Homo sapiens: one gene and its partners. The protein of the gene in region 1 purifies or fractionates together with the protein of each later gene. This does not show direct contact. Each region holds a gene or a part of one and is shown in the gene's direction. Other genes may lie near its edges. The genes, in order: NAALADL2, NAALAD2, IGSF3 and CELSR2.

Evidence for each region.
Region 2: the proteins of NAALADL2 (region 1) and NAALAD2 purify together in Homo sapiens (affinity purification with mass spectrometry; 3 studies listed by BioGRID and IntAct, with this or other methods). This does not show direct contact.
Region 3: the proteins of NAALADL2 (region 1) and IGSF3 purify together in Homo sapiens (affinity purification with mass spectrometry; 3 studies listed by BioGRID and IntAct, with this or other methods). This does not show direct contact.
Region 4: the proteins of NAALADL2 (region 1) and CELSR2 purify together in Homo sapiens (affinity purification with mass spectrometry; 3 studies listed by BioGRID and IntAct, with this or other methods). This does not show direct contact.

The regions. Positions count from the first base shown.
Region 1 is NC_000003.12:174,862,147-174,869,483, forward strand, and holds part of NAALADL2 (inactive N-acetylated-alpha-linked acidic dipeptidase-like protein 2), read left to right. Parts: exon of another isoform or gene 1-1,922; coding exon of another isoform or gene 1,923-1,944; intron 1,945-7,337. UniProt on the Homo sapiens protein: May be catalytically inactive.
Region 2 is NC_000011.10:90,172,578-90,179,914, forward strand, and holds part of NAALAD2 (N-acetylated-alpha-linked acidic dipeptidase 2), read left to right. Parts: intron 1-1,246; coding exon 1,247-1,338; intron 1,339-3,394; coding exon 3,395-3,485; intron 3,486-5,275; coding exon 5,276-5,540; intron 5,541-7,337.
Region 3 is NC_000001.11:116,664,476-116,672,023, reverse strand, and holds the start of IGSF3 (immunoglobulin superfamily member 3 isoform 2 precursor), read left to right. Parts: upstream 1-4,290; 5' UTR 4,291-4,406; intron 4,407-4,555; exon of another isoform or gene 4,556-4,663; intron 4,664-5,067; 5' UTR 5,068-5,697; coding exon 5,698-5,740; intron 5,741-7,548.
Region 4 is NC_000001.11:109,266,246-109,273,582, forward strand, and holds part of CELSR2 (cadherin EGF LAG seven-pass G-type receptor 2 precursor), read left to right. Parts: intron 1-1,302; coding exon 1,303-1,397; intron 1,398-1,605; coding exon 1,606-1,815; intron 1,816-2,335; coding exon 2,336-2,519; intron 2,520-2,634; coding exon 2,635-2,763; intron 2,764-2,864; coding exon 2,865-3,045; intron 3,046-3,178; coding exon 3,179-3,346; intron 3,347-3,448; coding exon 3,449-3,575; intron 3,576-3,687; coding exon 3,688-3,888; intron 3,889-4,180; coding exon 4,181-4,355; intron 4,356-4,681; coding exon 4,682-4,794; intron 4,795-4,971; coding exon 4,972-5,051; intron 5,052-5,140; coding exon 5,141-5,267; intron 5,268-5,354; coding exon 5,355-5,477; intron 5,478-6,032; coding exon 6,033-6,160; intron 6,161-6,394; coding exon 6,395-6,483; intron 6,484-6,587; coding exon 6,588-6,782; intron 6,783-6,920; coding exon 6,921-7,091; intron 7,092-7,190; coding exon 7,191-7,337. UniProt on the Homo sapiens protein: Receptor that may have an important role in cell/cell signaling during nervous system formation.

The DNA.
Region 1 (7,337 bases):
ATAAAATTGTACAAATAATATGGCATAAGGAATAGGGGTAAGTGCTTTCTAAGCATTGTTATTTGTGAAGGGAAGGATCATTTTTCTTGCATAATGCCTGCAAACTCACCTGCACCACTGAGTGGCACTCTATCACTCCATCAGTCTGTAACAGGAGTAGAGGGAGGGACATGGCTGGGAGATGGGAGGGTGACAGCTCCCTTCCTGGAAGGGAACTACCTGGAATATGCCTTAGGCTAAAGTTTCTTCAGAGGCCATCCTTGAACGTATAAGGGCTTCTTACCTCTTCTCTGCCTCGAAGGATGTCCATTTCCTACTTCTCCCAGGATTCTTATTAACAGAGTAGGTCCTAGTCAGAATTGGAAAATGGGGAAAGAATCTATCAGCATCCAGCTATGTGCTTCACCTGCTGAGCTCCTGCTACCTCAGGAATCCAGTTTCCATGAGCTTTTAACATGTTCTTTCTCTCCTTTTCATCTTTAGTCGAAATATATTCAAGGGCACCTTCCTCTTTGTAAATAATATGATATACTAATTGGCCCTTGAGATAATTGAATAAAAAGTATTTCTGAGTTTAATGCTGGGACAATCTTGTGAGAGGAGGAATCTTTAAGTTACGCCTCCCTGGGCTGTTTAATACACTTGGCACTCGTGCTGCCTACCAGCTGCCTGGATGTTTTGAGCGTTTCTAATAATAGCTCTCCTTCTACTTCAGTTCTTCTTAGTTCTCTAGCTCTAGGAAATCCCTACTCTGAAGGCTACAAAACAGTAGAACTCTGGGGGAAGATGTTCCAAGTACAGAGGAGTTGGCTGGATCCTGAGGAATGCAGAGCTAGCTCTAGATAGCAACCAGCAGGAGATAACTCTTCAACCCACTGAAGGAGAATTTTGCCATCACAGTTAGGAAAAAATAATCTTCAGAAAATTAACATTTTCAAGCTAGAAGATAGTCTCAAGTCCAATGTTTTTACTTTGTAGAGTAACAGAGATCCTATGAAGCTAGGAAAATTGTTTTTGGTTTCACAGAAGCCATTGCCAGAGGCCACGTCTCTAACCTGCTGCTCAAAACTGCGTTTGCTGCAGTTTTACGGAAGAATTTGGTGCATTATTTTCTAGAGTAATTTACTTTCCTATTTCTAATGGAGAAAGCAGTCTTAGTAATGTTTTCCATATTGACGTCTTTTAGTTTCTATATTTATGGTCTTGAAAGCATTGTCGAGTATTCAGTGAGCTTATTATGGAACCTGTCCATCCAGGCTTGGGTTTTCTCTTTACTAAACAAAAGTTACATTAGCTTGTAAGACATTTAGTTAATTTTCATTACAGCTAGGAGAAGTTGGCTTGTAAGTTCATAGGCACATGTATGGAATGTTTCTTCATAATAGAGTCATTGTTTAGAAATGGCACTAATTCTATTTAAAATAAGTAAAAGAAAAAAAAAACAACTCTAGGCAGGAGGAGCCTTAGTGTCTATGCTTCCAAGTTGCAGCCTGAGGGTAGTAGTACTTTGTACTCCAACCTGTTATACTGGTTTGGTGTGCATGCTTACTTTCTGTGGTGGGAAAAATATCTCTGTATTCATCATCAGAAACCATGACTGTGAGTGCCTTGAAATCTTTGTGATGCCACAAAGAGGACTAACCAGTATGTGACTCTTCCTTCCCAGCCTACAGAACTTTAATAGCATTTTCAATTAACAGAAGTGCAAGGAGCTCCTGTTGGACCTGTGTTCCATGAGGAAGGCTTTCACTAGCCCTTCATGATAGGTTCAAACACTTGAAGACCTGAGGAATTTCAGAGTTGACATTTAGATATTGAGGTAACAGGACATCTTGGAGTTGAAATTTCCAGAATCTTTGCTGGAAAGTCTCATAATCTCAAAACAAAATCAAGCAAATTTGGAGCAAAGAAAGTTGCTGAAAATGTCAAGGCATGAAATCCAAGGTGAGTCTGACCTAAATGAGTGAGTTAGGCAAAGGTGCATGTGAAGATGGACTGGGTACATTTTCCAGGTACAAGAGAGGGTCTTTGCAGCAGGCAAAAGAGATTAGGAAAACAAAATCTGAAGTAAAGCCTAAGAAATAGTTAATGAAATCAACTAACTGAGCTTATGAGCTAATTTTTTCTTTGTCTTTCTAAGTGGAAGTGGAATCTTTACCTTATTAGAAATAAGATGGCAAGCAGTGTACTTGAATAGAACGTGAGATAAAGGTGGTCAATGACATGGTACTTAGTTAAAACCTGCTGTTGGAGGAAAAGCCAATTCTCAAACACTTTGAAATATGGAGTTTGTTCCTGGAGTTTGTTTAATCCCCTTTGATTTAAATAATATTTTATGGTACTGAAATTGTTTCAAAGGGAAACATTTTACATTTCAATTAAAGTCACTGTAAAATCTTCTTGAAGAAAAGGTGATACATAACTACAGGATGACTTGATTGTTTATACGTTATTATTAATCATGCAATAAAAACTTTTCCATCTATTTAAAAGTTTGAATCTGTTTTTGAATTTTTCTTTGAACAAAAGATGCAGTAATAATCTTAAGATTATAAGTATATAAATGTAATTATTACTTTGTATGCTATTCTCTGGATTTTGGAAGGAGTTTAAACAAATTTAGCTAATTGAGTAGGACAGTAAGCCAAACTTCTTTGTATCACAGTTTTTTGGGGGAGGACTATTAACCAAACATGTATTTGATTTATTATTGGAAAGTATTAGACTTGATATATAAGTGAAGAAATAACAGGTGACTGCAAAGATTGCAAAGAAGATGTTATTAGGATGACAATACACAAAAGGGCATTGAGCTTCAGTTGATCCCTTGAGCTTCTAATTACTCTTCAGGAAAAGTATGTGTCAATAGTTTTATTTGACAATGCTATTTTGTTGCTCTGGTGACAGATATGTTTAACCATCTGCATAGTCGAACACTTCGGGAGGCTCTTTCATAAATGCTTTCTGTAATTTATATTGAAAAGTAATTTACCTGCCTCTTTAAACCCCTGATTAGTGTAATGCAGGTTGTATATTGTGTCCAAAAAAAAATAATAAAGTTATAAAATCCTACCAACTAAAAAAGTCGAAAGAGAAATACTTTGAAAAGTCAACTGCTAAATTTAATGCAGTTTATAATGAACATGCAAAAGGTGTGCACGTATGCTTGTTAAACCATACAATCAACTTTACCGTGTGACTTGAAACTTCAGTGAAAGATTCATTCTGAGATCTGATTAAACTGCTGAAATCCATTCAATCTCTTGATTCCTTTGTTCTCTCAAAAGTAAGCTCCTTTGAAAACAGGTCATGAGAAGAGAGGAATGAAGGATTATTGTACTTTATCTTCCTCTTTATTTATGACCTTTAATGCAATCGTAGACCAGCCTATCTTCCATTAAACTATTGATAAATCTTGAAAATTTCTCCATCACATCCACATTTCTTCGAGGGAGCTTTCAGAGATGGAGAAATACACTGCCTCAAAAGGTAGACATTGCTTCCATTCTTGCTGATTCTTGGTATTGTTATAACACAGGGATGTAAATAAGAAATTATAGAGGAATCTAGGAATTTATAGAGGGTTTCATAGAAGAGAGATGATTTGAAATTTCCTTGGCAGTTTGATAAACTGGAATAAGTGACCAGAAGGAAAAAAGCCTTCACTGGTCAAAAGAACAGCTGAGAGAAAGCATGGAAATTGTTTCTATGTATTTACTTGCTTTATTTCCCCCCTCTTTGGAAACAGAGGATTTTTCAAAATTCTCTACTTTGCTATAGGCTATAAATAAATAAACATAATAGAGATAAGATTAAGACAATGTAACAGTTAAAATTTGTATACAAAATATATGCCAGAACATGCTGAAAAACTGTCAAGCAGGTGACAAATTTGCTTTCAAGCCTCCTAGCAGCCAAAAGAAAATAATAAATTGTTTTTCACATTTATGGTCTTCAAATTATATAGAAATGTACCAGTCATTCAACAGATGCATGGATTTCTTGATAGACATGATGATAGAAATTGAAATCATTTCTATAGAGGATAAGAGACAGGCCTAACTAGAAGAGAGCATCTTTATTAGAAAACACTGAGCATTAAAATTAAAATTGTTATAGAGAGAAGGAAAATACTATTATATAACTCATATAAGAATATTGACATAGATGATTTTCCTTTGAGCTCCTAAAGCTATTGCACTATGCAGCCATATATTTGTCACAAAAACATTTCTGCAGAAAAAATTTCAAACCTATAGTAAATCTGAAAATAGAAAGGAAAATAATAGAAGAATAATTTAAAAATATAGATTGTACAAGATCTATGTATTTACATGATTTACATATTTACACTGTTAAAACTTCAGAATAAAAATAGATTCTTTTAAAATTTAGGCTTCTATATATATATCTTATAAGCTTACTCAATTGTCTGTCCCAGAGTTCCTAATGAATTTTATATAGGTGTTTTGCATTTATTTTGGTTAATGAAGGGTTCAGTGCAGTTACTATGGCAGATCTGGGGAAGAGGAGAATAGAGATAAGAATAAGGAAGAGCATATGGGCATTGATAATAACGACTTTATAACCTTCAGATGCAATGAAGTAATGATGTTGCCTAGAAGTTATTTTATATGTAGGTAAATAGGAATTTGGAGAAAAAGAAAAAAATTACTAAGAAAATATTAATGTGTTTATTCTTGACTCTGATTTCTGATCAGTTTTAGCATCATATTTTATATTTTTTCCAGTTTACAATTAGACCTATAAAAATTTCTTTGGGGCATCTTTTTTTCTTTTCTAGATTAGAAAACCCATAATATTGTCTATATTTCTATAAAATACTTACTAATTACTAAATCATATTTATCAAAATATCTTATGTTGTTTAGTAACATAATCTGCAATTAAGTTGGTATGTAGGTAATAGAATGTTCTGGAAAAGGAGTCTATGTAAAATATTTAACTAAATTGATTAGATAATAAATAGTTTATCTTCATAATCACAAAAATAAAAAAGGGGAAAGAACTAGTAAATTGGGTACTAATTTAAGGCAGAAACTTACTAAGCTTATTTGACTCTCACAGTGTTGGCCTTCTCCTTTCTTCCAACAAACACACCAAGCTGATCCGCTATTAACACTTACATGTTTTGGTTGTTTCTGCTGAACTTCTTATATTATGTTCCTTCTTGTCAATCAGTTATCAGATTAAATATCATCTCCAGCCTCACAAACTAAACTAGCCAGTCTGTCTTAATGTGTGATTTTTAATTCTTTTAATATGTCACCATAAGCCATTTTCCTTTTTTGGTATATTTGTTTATTGTCTATTTCACTGCAATAAAATGTTCTCTTCCTGAGATGAAAGGCCATAGCTGACTTGTTTATTGCTTCATTTCTAGTGCGTAGATCCATAGCTAACATATACTATGTTTTCTCAAGTTTAATATGCTCAGAAAAAAAGCATAAAATGCACAGTCTTATTCCTATGTGTATATGCAATTTACATTTATTCTAACATGAAAATTAGTTGAGCATAAAGTAGCAGCATTTAACATGATCAGTACAAAACAAAATAAAACAAGAAGCTTTAAATAAAAGAACCATTGGCAAATAAAAATTGTCTCAAATTGAAACAGACCTTTTTTCAAGAATAATAATAGTTGGCATAGAGTCTCTTTATTCTGAGATTGGAAGTAGTGCACTGTTATTCAAAATTAGAGAATTTATTCCTCCTCATTTTCTCTAGTTCTGTGTTACAGTGACTCTCGTTGGATTACCTAGATGAGCTCTCAGAAAGTCTAAGAATGAAAAGGCAAATAACAAATGAAACTTAGAGCAGCAGAATGTAAGGAGAGAAGCTCATGAAAGAGTCAAAGGGTTGGTTCTTATTGGTAACAGGAGGCTAATTTCAAAGGCTTCAGACATAATGCTAAGGTACTAGGTGTGACGGATGGCTGTGCATCTAATGTAACTGCATCTAGATACATTGTGAGGGGTAAATAGGTTATTTTGGAAGAAGGAGAAATGTAATGCTTTTACCTTTGGATAAATTGCATTTGTGATAACAGTGAGGTATCGAAATACTAATGTATTCATTTAATAGAATTTATTTTACATGATTGTTTTAGATATGGAGGGTATGTCTGCTGCCTTTGATGAATTCTCAGTTCTTTGGGAAATTTAGTGATGTGCTTATTTATATTTGTATATATTAGGCATATGCCCCTTACTGGGTAATTGTGAAAATTAAAAACATAAATATGCCAAACACTTGGAGCAGTCCATGGCACATAGTTTACACTTGATAAATGTTTTTTCTGTTCCCACAATCATCAACACCATCATTTTAATTTTAAACCTCATCCTTATTGTTATCCATCATCATAGTGATGATGCGCTGAATTCATGTGATTATAGTGGGATTCGAAAAAAGAATTTGGGAGACACTTGAGGTTAAATTGGTGTTTGCTTGTACTGAAGGAGGAAAAATGAAGAGACTGTGAAAACTTGATTTCTTGCTTGGATGACAGCAGGAATAGTATCCTTAACTGATTTAGAGAATGTAGGATGGGGACCGTTTAGGCAATAGAAATATAATGAGACTGCTTTAAAACAGTTATTCTAAACTGTAATTGTATATTTTGATGAAAATGTCTAGGACTTAAATTGAAAAATTGAGACTAGACCTTGGGAGAGAGAGAAATAGGATGGAAATAAAGCTTTAGGAGTTATTAAGGCATAAATGGTGTATGACATTGTGAATAGGTGAGACTATACAAAGATGGATGGTAGAGGAAGAAGACATGAATAATGATGATGGAGTATAAAGTCTGAGCAGAAATAAAAGAAACTGAGATGAGTCCATGGGAGAGAGAGAAGATAAAGATGACGGAGTTTTCAGAGGAATTCATGCTGGGAATTTCTATTTAAAATGAGTGAGAAATATTAAAGGACAAAATAGTCAAACAGCAAGGATTTGGTGACTCAAGCCTGGAACTAAGGTGAGACATGAGAAAGAATACAACTGGAGAATCACTGGGAATGAGGTGAAAAAAGATGAAATTATAGAGTATAACTTTAAGAAGCTTAAAACAGTAGAAATTCTGTCATAAAGCCCTGGGAAATGACCACACTTTGGAAATGGGAGAAAGAAGAGTGGAAAAAAGAGGTAGTTACACCAAAACAGTTCTAGGAGATAAATATAATTTTTCCCTTTTCACAAATGGAAGCTGAAGTTCAGTGAAGGAAAGAATGAAAGTGCTCAAATAGAAGGGGTGTGTCTGAAGAAGATGAGGACTTGGATTCCTAGAGTAACTTTAAAGAGCAGAAATG
Region 2 (7,337 bases), on another chromosome or scaffold:
GGAGACATATCTATCTCTCATCCCCACATCTCTTTATAGCACTTTGATATTTTCTTTTAAACTGCTTATTATAATTTTGTATTACAAAATTTGTTTGGTGTGTGTATCCCCAATTAGATTTCATTGTGAGGTCCAAGAGGGTAGAGACTATGTCTCTGTTTCCGCATCTCTTTTCTGAGTTCAGTGCTTAGTAAATATCTATAGAAAAATTAAGAATAGTGGCACAGAAGTTAGAATAACCAACTCTGTCTAAAGGCCAGAGAAAATACCAGATGTTTATATTCAGAAAGGTACCATTATCCCCAGTTTTACAGGTGAGAAGACTAAGGTTCAAAGAGGGGAACAAATACACCAAGTTATAATGCTTTCACAGTTACTTAAGTAGGGTCTGCCTTGGGTCTATTTTTGAGCAAATCAGTGTTATAAACAAACAAGAAAACAAAATATAGTCAATATGTGTAGTAGTCTAGATTTAAAATAGACCAATTTGACTCCACAGTCCACAATGTTTTCACCACATGTCTCTGCTCTTCTTAGAGTGTCAAAAGACAAGGCAAGTATAAGTTTGTAAATGTATTTTTAATGAAAGGAGTAAAAATGTATATATATACACACACACACACACGAGCTCTTAAAAATTCCCAAGTAGAAATCTGAGGTTATGTAGAGTTTTTTAAAAAATCCATAAAATTTTAACTTTGTTTAAACATAATAAGACTGTCTAAAAGAATAGTCCCAGCGCTAACCCCTGCCTGCCCTGCAAAACCAAGACTTATAGGTTAAGAAGCTGAGCTTGAAATTATGTCACCTCTATTGTTCTGAGACCTCTTTATAGGTCTTATTAGGCAAAAATAATTTACAAAAGCAAATGTTTTATCTGAAGTTTTCTCCAGTGTCTTCCCACTAAAAGAAATCTAAGCTGCCAAACATTAATTAAAATGGCATTTGTAAAGATTTTAAGTTCTATTTAAAAGTTTACCAAAATAAGCAGGAAATTACATCTTAGGTACATGGCAAAATTACCAACACAGGTAGACATCATGAATAAAAAATAATTTGGGCTAGATTTATTTCTTGCCATTTGCAAAAATATAATTTTTCTATAAAACATATACATGTGTATAAATATATACATGTACATATGTTATTAAAAGTAGAAGTTGATGACAAATAATATATAGTTTTATTTTGGCATAAATGTAGTTGCTTCTACCCCTAATTTCCAGTATTTGATTTCTCTTTCCAGATCCCCAGCCCTGATGATGGGTTTGAGAGTAAATCACTGTATGAAAGCTGGTTGGAAAAAGACCCTTCACCTGAAAATAAAAATTTGCCTAGGTAAGTTACTGATATGCACCTTTTCTACTGTAGGATAAGTTATGAATTCCCCTCTGCCTCTTGTTTCTCCAAGCATGAAATTCTCAAGCGTCTCATCAATAATTTGAGCCAAGAAAAGATAATGAAGAATTCCTGGCCGAGCCCAGTAGCTCACGCCTATAATCCTAGCACTTTGGGAGGCCGAGGCGGGTGGATCACCTGAGGTCAGGCATTGGAGACCAGCCTGGCCAACACGGCGAAACCCTGTCTCTACTAAAAATACAAAATTAGCCGGTCATGGTAGCGGGCACTTGTAATCCCAGTTACTCAGGAGGCTGAGGCAGGAGAATTGCTTGAACCCGGGAGGCAGAGGTTGCAGTGAGCCGAGATCGTGCCATTGCATTCCAACCTGGGCAACAAGAGTGAAACTCCATCTCAAAAAAAAAAAAAATAAGAATTCTTCTATCCAGTTTTGTTTTGCTGATTAGCCAGCATGTGAAGTCTTTCAGTCTATGTTAGAGCACAAATAGATCTAGTTTTGCAAATTTTTAGCCAAAATAGTTTCGCTACATTATTAGCCATTAGTTGGCATTCTTGCTTAAAATTTCATTTACATATGTATTAGGTGTATTAATATATAATATAACTTCAGATGATAATGATGAAAAGACAAATGCTAGATTATTTGCTTGTAAATTTATTAAGGAACATTATCAGTAACCACCAAATTGTGTCTTTACCTGTGATTTAGAATTTATATAAATATTATTTTATTTTTTATGTCATCTCATTCATGCTACAGCAGCTTTCTTAAATTTATTTTATATTTATTTGTTTTTATTTTCTTTTTTCTAAACATTATGTAATAAAAAGTATATATTTGTTTTCTACTGTAGTGCCATTTCTAATACAGACTGAGCATTCCTAACTCAAAAACCTGAAATCTGAAGTGCTCCAATATCCAAAACTTTTTGAGCACCAACATGATGTCACAAGTGGAAAATTCCACACCTTATAGCACTTAACACAAACTTTGTTTCATGCACAAAATTATTTAAAATATTATGTAAAATTAAGTTTAGGCTATGTTTATAAGATACATATGAAACATAAATGAATTTTATGTTTAGACTTGGGCCCCATCCCCAAGATATCTCACTGCATATATGTAAATATTCATAGTTGGAAAAAAATCTGAAGTCCAAAATATTTCTGGTCCCAAGCATTTCATATGGGATACTCAACTTGTACAAGCAAATAATAGTAACAGTTTATAGCTTTATTCCTCATTTCAAATCAGTCTTGTGAAAGTTTGAATGTGGGTCCATTATAAAACTTTCACATGCCAATTCAACAAAAACAGTAAAATACAAAAATGATTTCTAAAACATTGAAGAGGTCAGTCTCAAAAACATATCTACTAACCTAATAGTTTGGAAATAAACAGTTATGTTATTAATGAACATGCAATTTTATATTCTGCTTTCATGACTTACCATTATTTTACTAAAAATTTTCATGTCTTACATTTTATTTATGTATATGCATATATATGTGATAGATCAACAGAGGTTTCCTAATCATATGCAAAGAAATAAATTATAATTAGATTTATTTCTAAAATGAGGCACATTTATATTCTTCATGATTTTAAAAGTAGATTTTTTTATGGCAGTTTTCTTACTAGATGATAGTTCTCTGAGGGTAGGGCCCACGTCTTCATTGTTTTCCCCTCTAAACAAAAATGTAAATGCTGAAGATATGATGGAGAGCATCATCACAAGATGCAGTCTTTGGTGGCACAGCCCAATTCTTGTTATAGGTTGGTGCAAAAGTATTTGCAGTTTTTGCCATTATTTTTAATTTTCAGCATTACTTTTAATTTTACAGCAATTTTCCTGCAGATTATGGGAAAATGTCTTGATGGTGGTTGACCTTTTTTAAATTCTTATAAATGTAATATATAATTCCTTGCTATTCTTGGGGCAGGATTCCTTGTCCCATCTATTTAACTTTGTATCATTTACTTGTTTATGTGTGTGTGTGTGTGTGTGTGTGGATTGCATTCTACATCTAGAATCAATAAGCTGGGATCTGGAAGTGACTTTGAAGCTTATTTTCAGAGACTTGGAATTGCTTCAGGCAGAGCCCGTTACACTAAGAATAAGGTAAGCCATTTTATCATTTTGAATATATAACATTTCATCTACAGTCCTTTGGCGAAGAATGTCACTGAGTTGTTTGGCACCAGACACCTGGTGGATGTGGCCTGGGAAGAGTTCCCAGGGATAGAGATAGACTGCATGTCCCTTTCCAGATGGACAAGGAAGCAATTTGAGTAATTTTGTGAAAATTTCATTGTTAGGGTTAATCAAATAAATGGTGATTCACAGAGTAATGCCAGACACTTATCTGGTTAATCAGTACTAAGTAGTTCACATCCTTTTCCTGATTTGTCAGAAAACTCTCATTCTCTAGACTAGTCTTGCAGGCTCTGATGTACTTTTCATGAGGATAAATGCAGTTGGAGAACATATTTTGGTCAAGAGGAGCATTAGGGTAAGATTCATTATTGTCGGTAGCTCCTCTTCATATTGCCACTTCTGCCTGTCACCTGAGTCAAGGGTTCTTGGTTGGGAAATAAAGCAAGTTTCTCTTTTAACTTGATCCCCTTTTCTGTTCTGCACTGACTGGTTTGCACTACTGTCACACAGACATCCTGATGATATGCAGGTACTTGGATATAACCAATATATACCATGTTTGCTCATCAATGTTATAAATTATTTCATAAACCAAATTGAAGATTACAGTAGCAGACACAGATTTGTCATAGATTTTAATCAATCTTCAAATCATAATTACAGTACATCTAAATCTTGCTTGCCCATTATATGTATATCACTTGCAAATTTGACTGTTCAGAATACAACAAAGAACAAAGAAATAAAAGCAACCCCAGAGTAACCCAAAATAGATAAACTCAGAATGCTTACATTCATTACAATTAATACATAAATGATGTGTTTTAACTCTTTGTCAAGGCCTGTTCACTTTTATACTCTGTCTTCTGTAATTTGCTCAAAGTTATCTAGTTTCTAAGACCACTTTAGATTAGAAGCAGATAATTAGATAGAAGGAGAAGGACTGATAAGGAGATTGCTTTTTAGTGATACTAACAGCAGTAAGAACGATAGCCATACAAGGTGGCAAATAATAAAAACTAAAATTAGAAAAGGCAGACCGAAGAACTAAAAAGAATATTTATACGGGATACTACTATGTAATAATTCATATTCATAATGGTACCTTAATTATGTAATAAAGCTTAAATGACATTTAGATATACACTGTTTGAGAAGGAAGGGAAGTTACTTAAATAAATCATCCTTAAGCTGTGTACTTAGCTGCCCAGAACCTTTTTTTTTTTTTTACCAATCAATTGATAGATAACTTTGAACTATGCTGAGGTGCAATTTGAATATGTATTCCCTAATTTTAGTTATCGAAGATACAAGGAGAAAATGTTCAAGGTGTAGCATCTTGAATGAAGGTTACATAAATTATAAAACAAATAATGAGAAAATTTTTAAAACCAGTGAATATTTGGCTATAGTGTTTTCGTTATTAGCGTTTTGCCTCCTTGTGGTAAAACTCAGGGTGTTATATGGTTGTATTTTTTCTTTTTCTTGTTTTTTTTTTTTTTTTTTTTTTTTTTTTTTTTTTTTTTGTATTTTTAGTAGAGACAGGGTTTCTCCATGTTGCCCAGGCTGGTCTTGAACTCCTGAGCTCAGGCAATCCACCTGCCTTGGCTTCCCAAAGTGCTAGGATTACAGATGTGAGCCACCATGACTGGCTGGTTGTTATTTTTTCTATAGTTATTTTTATGCTTACATAAAAATATTATAACTTGAATATTTAATGTTTATTTATACTTGCCTCTCCATTTTTTTTTCAGAAAACAGATAAGTACAGCAGCTACCCAGTGTACCACACAATTTATGAGACATTTGAATTGGTAGAGAAATTTTATGACCCCACATTTAAAAAACAACTTTCTGTGGCTCAATTACGAGGAGCACTGGTATATGAGCTTGTGGATTCTAAAATCATTCCTTTTAATATTCAAGACTATGCAGAAGCTTTGAAAAACTATGCAGCAAGTATCTATAATCTATCTAAGAAACATGATCAACAATTGACAGACCATGGAGTATCATTTGGTAAGAAATAGTTGGGCAGATATTTTACAGTCTTTAAGTTAGAGCTTTAAGATATTATCTCCTATGATGATCAATGCATATTGTTTCATCCTAGAATACATATTTGCCTTACTTATTTTGACTTCTACACAAAAACTTAAAACAAACACCTATTAAAGAATCTGATTTAATCTGGCATGTATAGAATGAATCCATTATGGCTGAGTTATTACCACAAACATTGGGATGGTAAACATTTTTCTTGTATTATGGCCTTTAAAAACATTTTTACTGGCTGGGTGCGGTGGCTCACGCCTGTAATCCCAGCACTTTGGGAGGCTGAGGCGGGCAGATGATGAGGTCAGGAGATCGAGACCATTCTGGCTATTATGGTGAAACCGCGTCTCTACTGAAAATACAAAAAACTAGCTGGGCATGGTGGTGGGCGCCTGTAGTCTCAGCTACTCGGGAGGCTGAGGCAGGAGAATGGCGTGAACCTGGGAGGCAGAGCTTGCAGTGAGCTGAGATCGCGCCACTGCACTCCAGCCTGGGCGACAGAGCAAGGCTCCTTCTCAAAAAAAAAAAAAAATTTACTGTTATAGAAACAATATTAGAAAAATGTAACATTATTTGCAAAAGATTGAGAAAGCCACAAATACTATTACATACGTATTTTTAATTATTGTCAACAAAATGATTATTACTGCATATATCTTTTAGTGTTTGTCTATATGAAACATTTTTTCCATGGTTATAAGTATACTTTCCTTTTATTAATGACTGTTTAGTGGTTGCTCTTCTGCATTGTGCATCTCCTATACAGCAAGGATGACTCATAATGCAGTGTATGTAGTAGCATTGAGGATTGAGTTTGGAAGTGGTTTGCCTGGTTCAGATACTAGCTTTACCAGTTCTTCGTTATGTGACCTTGGGAAAGTTACTTAACTTCTCTATGTGTTAGCTTTCATACAATTAAAAGATAAAAAAGAACATATCATGTTTCAAAGATCATTGTGGAGATTCAGTTTGGTAATATATAGAAGCTGTGGTGGGTAGCACTTAGTGCTCATTAAATATTACCTATTACTGTTTTATTACAAACATTGTCTTTTATTATTCTGGGGGCACCTATTTTTAGTATATACCCAAATTATCAAATATGCCCTGAGTTTCTACTGTGTACCAAGTACTATGTTATTACCTGGGAGATATAAATGTGTACAAGGCATGGTCATAGTCCTAAGAAAGCTTAAAGTCTCATGTGGGGAATAAAGCAATATACAGATAATAGGTTACTATGGGGCTATGTAGAGAGTACTATAAAAACACAGAAAATGGGTATGGAATAGTAATGACTTCTGAATATTATTATATAAAGGATTAGTAATCTTTATATAATATTATATACAGGATTAGTAATAATAGCAAATACTATGGTCTAGAAAAAAAATGAAGCAAATAAAATGTGTTTATATCAATACAATTGGAGTATCTCTGCAGTGATGGGGGAAATAAGGAGAGATAAAACCAGAGAAATAAGCAGAGCCTACAGCAAAATGGACATTGGTAGTTCTGTGGCTATTCAGCATCCAGTTGTCTTCCTAAATTCCCTGATTTCCTTTTGGTGAATGATCTTTTATCAGTTTTTATAAGTCAGGGTCCAATTAAGAGACAGAAACCACACAGTTAGAGTGGAAGGGCTCTCTTTAGACAAGGTTAATTCTTCTACCTACTTACCTTCTTAGAGGCCTGGTTTGATCTGTTAATTCCTTTCCCTGTCATACTTTCAAAAATCACCATTACTATTGGTGACTATCC
Region 3 (7,548 bases), on another chromosome or scaffold:
GATGAAGGATAACTTGGCTAACACCCTTCATTTTTTTCCCCTTAAAACATGTAACTCTATGCCATTTGTGGTTTTATATTAGCCTTTTGGTTATAGCTATTGGTAGGTCTAGAAACCTCAAACTGATATAACCACTTGGCCATATCTTATCCACGAAAAAATTTTGTGTTGGCCCCCCCAAAGTGTTTAATTAGTTAATTAATTAGTTAATTTGTTTGCCCTCTCAACCCAGCTTTTCCTCACTCTAGGAAGAACTAGAAAGAGAGGGATTAATTTATTTTTGAAACACTAGTTTCCAATGAGCAAAATTAAGAATAATTTTTTTTTAATGTGGATTTCCTGATTCTCTTAAAAAGTAGGAAAATCAGGCAACACCACACCTTCCTTCCCAGCAGCAACACTTTGCTGAAGCTGTGCGTGCTCTTTCAGGCTGTGCTCTGGGTGCACAGGCCCCAGTACTCCCTGGCACTGTGCTTCAGCTCGGCTTCTGCAGGCTTCTGCATTTAACTCCCTGATGGACAAGATCAAGGAGTCTTCCAAAATGTCCAAAATAAACAACTGATTCCAGGCCGGTGCAGTAGAGGTTTCAAAATTCAAATGCAGAATGTTTTGAAGCAAGCTGGAATGTTCAGCCCGGGCACCAGACATTGCTGACTGGGGACTTCGGTGCACTCCTCTCCTTTGACATCTCTCCTTCCCTTAGGACTCTCTCTTTCTCTCTCTCTCTCTCTCTTTCTTTCTTTCTTTCTCTCTCTCTTTCTTTCTTTTCTTTCTTTCTCCTTCCTTCCTTCCTTCCTTCCTTCCTTCCTTCCTTCCTTCCTTCCTTCCTTCCTTCTCTCCCTCCCTCCCTTCCTTCCTTCCTTTCTTTCTCTCTGTCTTTCTTTCTGACAGAGTTTCGCTCTTGTTGCCCAGGCTGGAGCTTGTTGCCCAGGCTGGAGTGCAATGGCACGATCTTGGCTCACTGCAACCTCTTCCTCCCGGGTTCAAGAGACTCTCCTGCCTCAGCCTCCTGAGTAGCTGGGATTACAGGCATGCACCACCATGGCCGGCTAATTTTTTGTATTTTTAGTACAGACAGGGTTTCTCTATGTTGGTCAGGCTGGTCTTGAACTCCCAATCTCAGGTGATCTGCCCACCTCAGCTACCCAAAGTGCTGGGATTATAGGGGTGAGCCACTGTACCCAGCCTCCAATTCACTTCTCTGCCTGCTGATGAACTCCTGAAGGGGCCACCATCACATCACTGTTCAGGACTCATTTAATCGTTTCTATGTCTGGAGGGCAGAGGCATTCTTTTAAATTATACTTTTGTCTCCCCATCCAACACTTTGCACAGTTCTTTGCATATCGTAGATGTGGAAATTAGAAAGAATGCCATGCTGGGAATCAGCCATAACACATCTGGGTGGTGATGGAAGTCAAGGGTTGAAAGATCATCCAGAAGGATGCAAGGGGCCAAGTAGTATGAAGAGGGGCAGGTTGAGATTGAAAGAACGAGTAATAGAGAAGGGATAATTGAGTATAGGGGTTCAAGGATGAAGGCCTAGGCAGAGGCCTCAGAAAGTACAGTCTTGCACCTTGATGGGGGTACACCTTGGTGGGGGTCAGAGAGTTCCAAAGCAGGCTGAGATGCCCCTTCTGGAAGATTCCTTGACTCTTCTCTTTCTCTCCCCCTCCATATTCAGTTCTTCAGAGAATTTCATTGACTCTGCTTTCTAAATGCTTTCAGACTCCACCCATTTCCACAACCTGCATCAGCACCACCCTAGTTTAAGCTGTGATCATCTCTCACCTGCGCAATGGAAAGAACCTCCCATCCAGTGTCCCTTGTCCACCCCTACCATCTGATGCTCTATTCTTACCCAGCAGCCAGAGTGAGCCAAGCTCCTCAGGTTAGAAGGTCCTACTAGATTTGGCCTCTTTGACCTCTCTGATCACATTCCTCCTTCTCCTTCTGTTTTATGCCATTTCAGACACACTAACACACCTTTAATTTTCTGAACATGTTATGGGGCTTTGCACTTGCTGTTCCCTGCACTTGGAATCTTCTTACTCCAGAAATCTCCAGCGCTCACACACTCCCTGTAATCAGGTCTCGCTCAAATGTCACTTCCTCTGAGGGGTCTTTTCTGACCACCTCACCTAGCAAAGAGTCCTTCTTCCCACTGGAACCCCCAAACATACACACTATTTCTTTTCCTTTCTGTTTTTTATTTGTTTGTTTGTTTGTTTTGGAGATACTCTCGCTCTGTTGCCCAGGCTGGACTGCAGTGGTGTGATCTCAGCTCGTTGCAACCTCTGCCTCCCAGGTTCAAGCGATTCTCATGCCTCAGCCTCCCAAGTAGCTGGGACCACAAGTGTGCACCACCACGGCTGGCTAATTTTTGTATTTTTTGTAGAGACAGGGTTTCGCCATGTTGGCCAGGCTGGTCTCGAACTCCTGACATCAAGTGATCCCCCTGCCTTGGCCTCCCAAGGTGCTGGGATTATAGGCATGAGCCACTGTGCCCGCCCACACATTTCTATACTCCACTTTTCTTCAGAACACGTTACATTATATTATATACTTGTTTCATTGTCTGTGTTTCCCACCAGAATGTAAGCTTCATGAGAGCAGAGACTTTTCTTAACACGTAGTAGGTGCTCAATAAATAAATGAAGGAGTCTAGCAAATGGGAACTGAGAGCTGCCAGAGTCACGGGTGTCTCTGGGAAAGAGGTAATAATTAACACACAAGGAAAGATTCCTGGTTGGGCACAGTAGCTCATGCCTGTAATCTCTGCACTTTGGGAGGCTGAGGCGGGCAGATCACCAGGTCAGGAGTTCAACACCAGGCTGCCCAACATGGTGAAACACTGTCTCTACTAAAAGTACAAAAATTATCCGGGTGTGGTGGTGCACGCCTGTAGTCCCAGTGACTCAGGAGGCTGAGGCAGGAGAATCACTTGAACCCGGGAGGTGGAGGTTGCAGTGAGACAAGATTACACCACTGCATTCCAGCCTGGGTCACAGAGTGAGAACCTGTCTCTTAAAATAAAATGAAAAATAAAACGTATATCTGATAACCATAGTCCCTTACTCAACACCTTCAGTGGCTTCCCAATGGTCCCAACCCCTTAACACACCATACAATGCCCTCTAGGTTCTGGCACTCGATTTCTTCTCAGCTCATTTCTTGTCACTTCTCTCCTACAGTCAAGTTTGGGCCCAGCAGACTGTCCTGGTCCTCTAACTGGGCTCCTTTCTGGGCCTGCAGAGGTGCTGTTTCTTCAGTCTGCGATTCCTTACCTCCCCTCTGTCTCTTCCTCTGCTGCTGCCTTCTGTTCTTTGGCATTCAACCGAGTTTTCCTTTCCTCTGAGAAGCCTGGGACCTACCCCGACCAAAGCTCCCTCCTCCTTGCCCCTCCCCCAATAACACAGGGTTGGGGTCTCTGCATTTGCTTCCTCAACACTGTACTTTTCTTGTCATGTCTATTTTATGGTCTGTGTCCCCACTAGACTGCAAGTTGCATGAGGGCAGGGCGGTCTATTCTGCTTTGGTCGCCTCGTGACGGTGTCTACCCAGCAAGTTGTGTGTGTTGGGTAAGTAGTGAGAAAACGAAAAAGCACTTGCTTTACAGGGCGGTTGGTCATAAAATAATAATAGCTTATATTTACTGACCACTTGTGATGTATCAGGCACCATTCTAAATGCTTTACAAGTATGTCACAGATTTCTCCCATAACCCTCTTAAGTAAGGGTTATTTCCTCCACATAGCAGATGGGGAAATTGAGGCACAGAGAGGTTAAGTAACTTGCCAAGGGCCACAGCGAGGAAGTGGAGGAACCGGCGTTAGAACCCAGGCTGTTTCCAGAGTCCAAATTCTATCCAAGAGTGAAGTGCAATATGGGGTTCCACTTCGTGAACAGATTCAAGTCTCCAAAGGGCTTTGTTTTTGTTTCCAGGAGGAAGGACGAGCTTCTGTGCCGCCGGCTTCCCAGGTTATGGGTGGCCAGCTGGGCTTTGGGAAGGGCCTGTACATCTCGCCGGCGGCCCCGGAGTCTGGGTGTGAAGCCCTGATTAACTTGCCGGGCTGCTCGGCCCACACGCCAGCCCTGCCCAGGTCCTCCGGTGCCCCGGGCCACCCTCATGCCCCCGCCAGGCCCGGGGCCGGGACTCGCGTCTCCAGGGGCGGGGCCGGGGGCGGGGCCGGGCCTCTCTTCGAGGCCGCCGCCCTGGCCCCGCGCTCGCCTCGCCGAGTGCGGCGGGCCGGGCTGGAGCTGGAGGGGCGGGGACTCGGGAGGGGCCGCAGCGCGGCTGCTGGTGCCGTTGCGGGAGAAGAGGAAGCGGCGCGTCCCCTGAGGCGTGCGCCTGGATGGACTGAAGGACGGTCCGACGCGCGCGGAGGGAGAGGGCCAGGGGCGAGGTCAGGCTCGGCGGGGGCGCGGGCGGCGCCCGGAGGGGGCCCCGGGGAGGGAGGCGGGGAGGCGTGGAGCGGGGAGCGGGGAGCGGGGAGTGGGGAGCGGGCCCGCGCCGGCTGAGCTCCGGGTCGGGCCCGAGACCCCTCCCCTGGCTGGGCGGGCGCGCTGCGAGCGCGCTCCGGCAGCTGAAAGCGGAGCTCCGGACTCCCTTCTTCCCCGGTTTCTTTTCTTTCCAATCAGCGAGATATAAACACCCTGCAAGGTAAAACAATAGCGGGGCCACCTGGGACGCGTCGCGCGCAGAGCTCCCACGGTTGGGGCGGGGGCCGGGAGTCGCGGCCCCACCGCGGAGCCCCTTCCCGATTTGCCCTGGCGGAGGGTGGGGCTACCTGCGGCGCCCGGGCTCGGTAGGAGGTGACGGGAATTCCCAGGAGTGAAGCATTTGGTGGAAGTATTTCAGGAACAATCGGGCTTCCCACTGTTGCCCTGCTCTGGGCAGGGAAACTGAGGCGGAGGGAAAGACAGAGACTTGCCCAAGGTCAGAATGCAGAGGTTGACTGTCCTGGTCCAGGAACCGGACCCAGGTGTCCGGACCAGCTCAGCGCTCAGCCCCAGTGGGTTTTGCAGCTTTGCCTTTGATAAAAATCTCTGTTGTGTTTGTTTTAGAAATCTGCTCGCGCTGGGGTACCGCTTCAGGGCTGCCGAACGCCAACTTGCTTCGTGTGCCCTAGGCAGGCGTGGGGCAGGTGGCGCCTCCGTGACCTACCACCATGGATGGAAACGGACTTTTTGGTGAAGAAACCCAAACGGTTGATGCCAGGCAGGGTGATTTGGCCGTCAAAGGTTTTGACGAAACCTGCCCTGTTCTCTCTGGGGAATCCGAATGAGGGAGATCACAGACACCTTCACTGAGAAGCCAAGGACATTTCTGTATAATCAGTGGATGAAAGGATTTTCTCAGACCCTTTTTTCCGTGCTTCTGGAGGATTAATCCACTACAGTCTGCAATTTCAGTGGAAACTGCAAGGCACACGATGTGGCAGGAGCCGGGAGCGACTTCCGAATTGTTGTGGACCCTTCCTGTAGCATAGGGGAGTTTTCACACTTGCCTCCACTCCTCCCCTTCCCCCCAACTCCCTCCTTCTGATCTCTTCTTTTTAATCTGTTCCCATTTTCCGAGTTAAGTTCTATTTCCAAAACTGTTCTCTGGAGCTATAAGTGGATTGCCAGAAATGAGAGATTAGGAGCTGGGAGAAGAGGAAGCGCCTTGTGTTGTGTCTCCTGGAGGCTGCCGACATGAAGTGCTTTTTCCCGGTGCTGAGCTGTCTGGCTGTGCTGGGTAAGTGGCTCTGCTTATCAGTGCAATCGATGTGAAAGTTTAACCTGCTCTTGGTTCCTGTAATTTCTCGTGGTTCTTTTTCATCAACACTAGGATTTGGGGGACACCAGGAGGCGGTCGGTGTGTGTCACAGGTTGGAGTAGAGTACGAAGAGGCCCGTTTCTAACCCAAGAGCAACGGTGGAATATCATTTGTTATCTATAAGAAGGAACATTTGCTGTTCTTAAAGTGTCTGTCTTGGCCCCTGGGGTGAGGTCCTGCATCTGCACATCTGTGGTTTAGGGACTTCACATGGCTGGTGGGCTGCTGTCTTGTAGCATGTCAAACATGGATGCTCTGGTGTTTTCACTTCTTTGTTGGGCTGCATTGATTCCTAATTGGGAGTGGGAACATCATTCCCCTCTGTCTCGAAAGTTGGTTTGGGTGATAATGATGGTGCCTTTTTTGAGGTGGAAATGGGAGTAAGTGGGATGGGGGTTGAAGGGATGCTTTGCCTACCTGAGTGGTCTGAAGGCTAAAAATGTGAGGGCACTAGTCCTGTGTCTCCTCACCAAGGAAGCTTAGATCGTAGTTCTGGGAGAAGGAGAGCCTGAAGAAAAGGAAGCTGCCTGGTAGGGGAGATTTTAGGATTGGCTTTTGTGCTCCCACAAATCAGAATGCCTAGAGTGGGAAGAAGAAACTATGGCCCTGAGAGGTGAACCTTTGACACCCCTCTTAAGGTGCAGATGCAGGACCTTCACCCCAGTGAAGAGGCCCCTCTGCTCAACAATTGCCTATTCTTTTTATGCCATTGAGCACTGTCTTCAGCGTGCTGTCTTAGAACACATCTCAGGTCTAGGATAAACTTCATTGCCAGGATTTGGTGCCATTCTCTTTCCCCATCTCAGACCTCATACATGAGCACACCCCCTGCCCTCTCTGTAAGGCTCGGTCCTCTGCATTCAGAAGGGATTATGATTGTTGCCTACAGGGTTCACGTCTCCAAATCTAGGTGTCTTGCACGTAGGGAACTTAGGGTGATCTGTTGGCAGTGGAGATTGCTTCCATGCATTGTCTACACCCTTGCAGTAGGTAACAGGTGTGTGGGAAGAGAATGGACTTTAGAATTAGAGGACCTGAGTTCCTATCCCAGCTTCACCATGATTGACATCTGAATGTCAATAAAACAGAAACAATAAAACAAGGGAAGGTGTGATAACTAAAGGATATAAGGTGTCCTAAATGCCTTGACTGCCTTAAATAATGTCTGAAACTCATAATAGATTTGTGCAATCAGTGGTTCTCAAACTCTCGTGTGCATGTTGGAATCACTGGGGAAGCTTTTAAAAATTCTGATTTCAGGCAACAACCCCAGATCAGTGAAACCAAACTCGCTTAGGGAGTGGGACCCAGGTCTCAGCCTTTGAGCTATCTCAGGTAATTCCATGCATGGTTCAGTAGAGAACCAGTGGGTGAGTTCACTAGCGCCAGTGCCCTACCACCCAACGCATGCAGACACCCTGCTGGTAGTTTAGTTAGTCTTCTGTTCAGCTGTGGGCTGGGATACAGGCAGTGTCTCCATGTCACCTGTATGCTCAGGCAGAGTCAAGAAGGCAGGGAGCCCTTCATTTGCCAGTCTCTTCATATTGGATCTGTATTTGTTGTACTGTATGTGTCATTCGCTTAGTGTCTGGGTTTAAATCAGCAATTAGTGATTCATGTGGATTCAACAGGACACAAACAAGGAAAGCCCTTGGGGAGGTTTGGATGTGGGGTGGGGTGTGTGGCTAAGGCGGGAAAGAGGGCTGAGTGGCAGGGTGGGGCCCAGG
Region 4 (7,337 bases), on another chromosome or scaffold:
CCTCTGCTGTTAGTGGGATGAGGGCAGGAAGCTCCTGGCTGAAGATCCGGGGACCCCACTTTCTGGCCTCCAGGTCCTGGGATTTCATTTCCCATCTTCCTTGGTTCACATTCCCCCTTCCCCATGTTGCCCAGGTGTGCCTACATCTTGGACTGTTTTGTTTTGTTTTGGTTTGGTTTTTTTTCTGGGACAGAGTCTGTCACTGTCACCCAGGCTGGTGTGCAGTGGCGTGATCTCCGCTCGCTGCAACCTCTGCCTCCCAGGTTCAAGCAATTTTCCTGCCTAAGCCTCTGGCCGCCACCACACCTGGCTAATTTTTTTTTTTTTTTTTTTTTTTTTGTATTTTTAGTAGAGACAGGGTTTCACCATGTTGGCCAGTCTGGTCTCGAACTCCTGACCTCATGATCCGCCTGCCTCGGCCTCCCAAAGTGCTGGGATTACAGGCGTGAGCCACTGCACCCCACCACATTTTGGACTTTTTTTTTTTTTTTTTGAGACGGAGTCTCGCTCTGTCATCAGGCTACAATGCAGTGGCATGATCTCGGCTCTCTGCAACCTCCACCTCACAGGTTCAAGCGATTCTCCTACCTCAGCCTTCCGAGTAGCTGGTACTACAGGCGTGTGCTACCATGCCCAGCTAATTTTTTATATTTTTTTAGTAGAGACAGGGTTTCACCATGTTGGCCAGGATGGTCTCGATCTCTTGACCTTGTGATCAGCCCGCCTCGGCCTCCCAAAGTGCCGAGATTACAGGCGTGAGCCACCGTGCCCAGCCCACATCTTGGACTCTTAACAAAAATGCTGAAAAACCTGCACTGTGCTTGGCATAGGGCTGTGCTAGAGATTCAAAGATGAATCATGCAGGGTTCCAATCGTCAGCTCACCACCGAGTCCTGGAGTTACGCCACCACAAAGGCAGACAGTCTGGGGAGTAGGGGGTGTTGGCTGCTGACCCAGGACACCCAGCCCAGGATGGGGGCTGGCGCTGGTCCTGGACTGGCAATGAGCAGGTTCATAGGCAGGAAGTGGCGGAGAGCACAAAGTGGTGGCTGGAGACAGGCAGGATGGGGGCTCAAGGAGGTCGTATGCCCTGTTCCCCTAGAGCCCATGTGTGGACTGATCTTGCGGAGATTTTTGGCCCTGGTGTTCTACATACCTGTCTTCCTGTTTCACCAGGGCCCTTGTTTGCTAGTTACTGTCCCCGGCCCATGAGGTGCTGGCCTCCAGCAGAACCTCTCAGCCAGTCTCAGGGGCTTCCTGTGTGTCTCCCTGAGGCCGGCCCTTTTGGCTTCCTTCCCCCAGGGACTGCTGTGCGCCACTGTGATGAGCACAGGGGGTGGCTCCCCCCAAACCTCTTCAACTGCACGTCCATCACCTTCTCAGAACTGAAGGGCTTCGTAAGTGAACCCCCTCATCTCCATCTTTTCCCTGTCCTTCGTCCTGAGTCTCACTTGCCCCCACTCCCATCTTTGAGAACGGGGCTTCTGGAATTCCAGCCTGTGTGTTCCTGGGCTCCCAGCTGGAGAGGCCGTCTCTCACCTCCTGAGGTCCTTTTGCTCCAGAGTTCCTGCCCTCACTCCTGCTCCTCCGCTCCGTCCTGTCTAGGCTGAGCGGCTACAGCGGAATGAGTCAGGCCTAGACTCAGGGCGCTCCCAGCAGCTAGCCCTGCTCCTGCGCAACGCCACGCAGCACACAGCTGGCTACTTCGGCAGCGACGTCAAGGTGGCCTACCAGCTGGCCACGCGGCTGCTGGCCCACGAGAGCACCCAGCGGGGCTTTGGGCTGTCTGCCACACAGGACGTGCACTTCACTGAGGTGGGGCTTGGAGGATGCAGGGCTGGCTGGTTAGATAGGGGTCATGGTGAGTGAGCCTGCTCATGGCAACCTGGGGGGCAGAGGGGGCCCTCCCATCCCACCTACAAGGAGCTCCCTGCTGGCAGGAGGCCTCCATGAAACCCTGTGACCCCTGGCCCAGCCCTCTTCCCAACCCTTCTCATAGTAACATATGTGTGTTGGGGCATGGTCTGACCCAGAGCAGAGGCCTGCCTGTGGTACCATGGGCTGGGAGGAAGCAGTATCTCAGGACATGTGTGTGGGTCCAGGCACAGGGCTGGGAAGCTCTTATGTAGAGAATGAGGAGGAGGGCTTAGGGGCAGAGCATCCAGTGACCTGAGTGGGCAGTGCGGTCCAGGAGCATTTCAGGGGAGGCAACAGTGAGCACAGAGGGAGGGGCCTGGTGGGGAGCAGGGACTGGCCCGGGCACAGGCCGGGGCTCCATGGTGGGGATGTCAGGTGTGGGTTGTGAGCACACCCACCGTGACCTTGCCCACCCCAGAATCTGCTGCGGGTGGGCAGCGCCCTCCTGGACACAGCCAACAAGCGGCACTGGGAGCTGATCCAGCAGACAGAGGGTGGCACCGCCTGGCTGCTCCAGCACTATGAGGCCTACGCCAGTGCCCTGGCCCAGAACATGCGGCACACCTACCTAAGCCCCTTCACCATCGTCACGCCCAACATTGGTAAGGCTGGTGCCTGGGTTGGGGAGGGGTTTGTGGAGGGAGTCCCCGACAAGAGCGGCTGTGCTGGGGTCCTGCCTGCCTCACAGGTCCGATCTGTGACCATCCCCTTCCTTAGTCATCTCCGTAGTGCGCTTGGACAAAGGGAACTTTGCTGGGGCCAAGCTGCCCCGCTACGAGGCCCTGCGTGGGGAGCAGCCCCCGGACCTTGAGACAACAGTCATTCTGCCTGAGTCTGTCTTCAGAGGTCAGTGGTGGCCATGGATTGAGTTGGGAGCTGGACCCCAGTGTCTGTGCAGACTCCACAGAGAGCAGGGCCCAGCTAAGTGTGACAGTGTCCCCTCCCAGAGACGCCCCCCGTGGTCAGGCCCGCAGGCCCCGGAGAGGCCCAGGAGCCAGAGGAGCTGGCACGGCGACAGCGACGGCACCCGGAGCTGAGCCAGGGTGAGGCTGTGGCCAGCGTCATCATCTACCGCACCCTGGCCGGGCTACTGCCTCATAACTATGACCCTGACAAGCGCAGCTTGAGGTCAGCAGCTAGGGGACAGGTGTGGGTAGGGGTATGGGTCGGGCGGTGAGTGCTGAGGCATGGAGGGGGTCGGGGGCGTCTCCCCAGTCATGTGACTGCCGTGGTGACTGTGCACCTGACTGCCCCACATCAGAGTCCCCAAACGCCCGATCATCAACACACCCGTGGTGAGCATCAGCGTCCATGATGATGAGGAGCTTCTGCCCCGGGCCCTGGACAAACCCGTCACGGTGCAGTTCCGCCTGCTGGAGACAGAGGAGCGGACCAAGCCCATCTGTGTCTTCTGGAACCATTCAATCCTGTGAGCCTGCACTGCCCTCGCCCCCTCAGGCTTCGGGCTGAAAGTCCAGGCCCCTGCATGCCTCACCCTCCTTGTCTCCCTGACCCTGCCTTCCTCACACAGGGTCAGTGGCACAGGTGGCTGGTCGGCCAGAGGCTGTGAAGTCGTCTTCCGCAATGAGAGCCACGTCAGCTGCCAGTGCAACCACATGACGAGCTTCGCTGTGCTCATGGACGTTTCTCGGCGGGAGGTCGGGCCCACAGGGGCAGCTGCAGAGCCGTGGGTGGGCACCCAGGGCACGGGGCTGGGTGCTCAGGTCCTGCCCTTCCTAATTCCCTGGCCCCCTGCCACCTACTCTGCAGAATGGGGAGATCCTGCCACTGAAGACACTGACATACGTGGCTCTAGGTGTCACCTTGGCTGCCCTTCTGCTCACCTTCTTCTTCCTCACTCTCTTGCGTATCCTGCGCTCCAACCAACACGGCATCCGACGTAACCTGACAGCTGCCCTGGGCCTGGCTCAGCTGGTCTTCCTCCTGGGAATCAACCAGGCTGACCTCCCTGTAAGATGCTCCTACTGCCCAGAAACTGTCCCCACCTTCTCAGGCCGCCTCCCCAGCCCCCACTGGCAACCCCTGCTCCTGCACCATGAACTCTAATAAGGTGCCTAGTGCAGCACCTGGCCCAGGGTTTCCTCTTCTGTGGCTCCCCCGGGATCCCCCAGCACCTGCCTCTGGCCCAGGCTTCCCTGGAAGCAGTTCCCAACACCCAGGCCCTCCTCCATGCCTGACCCGAAGCAGAGCCTGTGCTCTGGGCGGGCCCCGGTCGCTGACCTGCCCTGGCCTGGGCCCTCAGTTTGCCTGCACAGTCATTGCCATCCTGCTGCACTTCCTGTACCTCTGCACCTTTTCCTGGGCTCTGCTGGAGGCCTTGCACCTGTACCGGGCACTCACTGAGGTGCGCGATGTCAACACCGGCCCCATGCGCTTCTACTACATGCTGGGCTGGGGCGTGCCTGCCTTCATCACAGGTACTCCCACCCATTCCCAGTCTTGGGGTCCCACATCCCTGGGTCCACCTTTGTGCCATGTTCTCTCCACCCACATACAGGCCCTGAGGCCCCACATCCCCATGCCCCAGGCCGCCTTATTCACAGGTGTCCCTCTGGTTTAACCCAGACTCTGCAGCCGCCACCCAGGCGTCACTCCCTTATCCTGGGGAGATCGGTAGGGGCCGATGGTGGGCAGAACCCTTTTCCATGCTTCATGCCTGGCCCTGTGAGCCCACCTGCCCGCAGCCCTACTTCCCAGGCCCCTCATCACCCCTCCACTGCTCCCGTCTGTCTCCATGCTCCAGGGCTAGCCGTGGGCCTGGACCCCGAGGGCTACGGGAACCCTGACTTCTGCTGGCTCTCCATCTATGACACGCTCATCTGGAGTTTTGCTGGCCCGGTGGCCTTTGCCGTCTCGGTGAGTGCTAGCAGGTGGGTTGGGTGTCACCTGTGGCCCTCCTTTGCTGTCCTCCTGCTGCTGGGGCCGCGTGTCCTCAGGACTCCCTTTAGGAACAGCTGAGGCCACGGGGCCCTGTGGGCTGGGTGGAAGCTGTTTGTCCCCACTGAGCACCCCATGCCCTCTGCCCCTGCCTAGATGAGTGTCTTCCTGTACATCCTGGCGGCCCGGGCCTCCTGTGCTGCCCAGCGGCAGGGCTTTGAGAAGAAAGGTCCTGTGTGAGTATAGGGTTGGGGTGCCTGGGCCATGGGCAGGCACCAGCATGGGAGGTCTCATGGCCGGACTCATGGCCTGTCCCTATCCCCAGCTCGGGCCTGCAGCCCTCCTTCGCCGTCCTCCTGCTGCTGAGCGCCACGTGGCTGCTGGCACTGCTCTCTGTCAACAGCGACACCCTCCTCTTCCACTACCTCTTTGCTACCTGCAATTGCATCCAGGTACCTGGCCCAGCCTGTGGAGAAGGGAGGCACCTGGGCTGTGGATGCCTGAATATGCACAGACCGTTGCTGCCTCTTGCCTGCCAGGGCCCCTTCATCTTCCTCTCCTATGTGGTGCTTAGCAAGGAGGTCCGGAAAGCACTCAAGCTTGCCTGCAGCCGCAAGCCCAGCCCTGACCCTGCTCTGACCACCAAGTCCACCCTGACCTCGGTGAGGGAGCCAGGGGTCTCAGGAGGGCGGTGAAGGGAGGGAGAGGCAGGAGGCCCAGTGAGCCTGTACTTTTGGCCCCACTCCCCTTTCTCTTTTCTCCATCCCTTCCTGGAAGGTGGAAGGGGAGGTGAAATGCTGTGTTCGGCCTGGGGAGGAGATGTTGGAAAGGGTGTGTAGGATTTTGACTTGAGGGAGATGGGGCTGAGACAGATAATCAGGTAATAAGTGCCTTGCACCTGAGAATCTCTCATGAATTTTAGTAAATTTTCTGTCTCCCAAGGTGCTCTCAGGAGACAATTTCTGGTCTCATCTTTTACAGAGCCATTATATAGTGAGTCCAGGATCCCTGGGGGCATGCAGGGGTAGCACAGCTGTGGCAGAGCTGTGACCACTGCCAGGCCTCAATATGGGGACAGCGGAGAAGCAGGGCCCTCTCTTTCAGACCTGAGCATGTGGAAGGTGGAACTTAGGGCAAGTTCCCTCCACCCTCCTTCTTCCCAGCCTGGGGCCAGCCATCCCACTCCCCACTTACTGACCTCTCTGTTCCCTGCCTAGTCCTACAACTGCCCCAGCCCCTACGCAGATGGGCGGCTGTACCAGCCCTACGGAGACTCGGCCGGCTCTCTGCACAGCACCAGTCGCTCGGGCAAGAGTCAGCCCAGCTACATCCCCTTCTTGCTGAGGTGAATCCCGGAGATGGGAGGGTGGAGGAGGGGAGGAGGGGCCCACGCATGCTGGACCCAGGCCAGCCAGCTGTTGGGAGTTGAGGAGCACACACTGTGGCTGACGTGGGGGCCAGCTTGGATTAGAAGCTGTAAGGGACCCACAGCAGGAACCAGGATCCCAGGGGAGAGGAGAGACTGGGACCCTGGGCAAGGGGCCAGGCTGACCCCTCCAGCATGGTCTCATCTTCCTAGGGAGGAGTCCGCACTGAACCCTGGCCAAGGGCCCCCTGGCCTGGGGGATCCAGGCAGCCTGTTCCTGGAAGGTCAAGACCAGCAGCATGGTGAGGACAGAACGCTCTGGCCACCCAGCAGGGCAGTTGGCTGGCTTTTACTGAAGGTGGGTGGAGGTGGCTGGGCTGGCTGTGATCTCTCCCTGGCCTCCTAGATCCTGACACGGACTCCGACAGTGACCTGTCCTTAGAAGACGACCAGAGTGGCTCCTATGCCTCTACCCACTCATCAGACAGTGAGGAGGAAGAAGAGGAGGAGGAAGAGGAGGCCGCCTTCCCTGGAGAGCAGGGCTGGGATAGCCTGCTGGGGCCTGGAGCAGAGAGACTGCCCCTGCACAGTACTCCCAAGGGTGGGCCAGCACTGGGGCTGTGGCCTTTGGGGCCAGTGGGAGGACAGTGGGCCTGGGGTTCTTGGGAAGCAGGACTGGGGTGGTGGCCTCCTGGCTATCTGCCCTCTGTGGGCCTCATCTACTTCCTTTCCCCACCAGATGGGGGCCCAGGGCCTGGCAAGGCCCCCTGGCCAGGAGACTTTGGGACCACAGCAAAAGAGAGTAGTGGCAACGGGGCCCCTGAGGAGCGGCTGCGGGAGAATGGAGATGCCCTGTCTCGAGAGGGGTCCCTAGGCCCCCTTCCAGGCTCTTCTGCCCAGCCTCACAAAGGTGAGTGGGGCACCCCCAGCTGCCGAGCTCCCCTAGTCAGCAGCCTCATACCTCACATTCTCCTGTGGCCGCACCTCACAGCCCCGCCCCGGCCCACAGGCATCCTTAAGAAGAAGTGTCTGCCCACCATCAGCGAGAAGAGCAGCCTCCTGCGGCTCCCCCTGGAGCAATGCACAGGGTCTTCCCGGGGCTCCTCCGCTAGTGAGGGCAGCCGGGGAGGCCCCCCTCCCCGCCCACCGCCCCGGC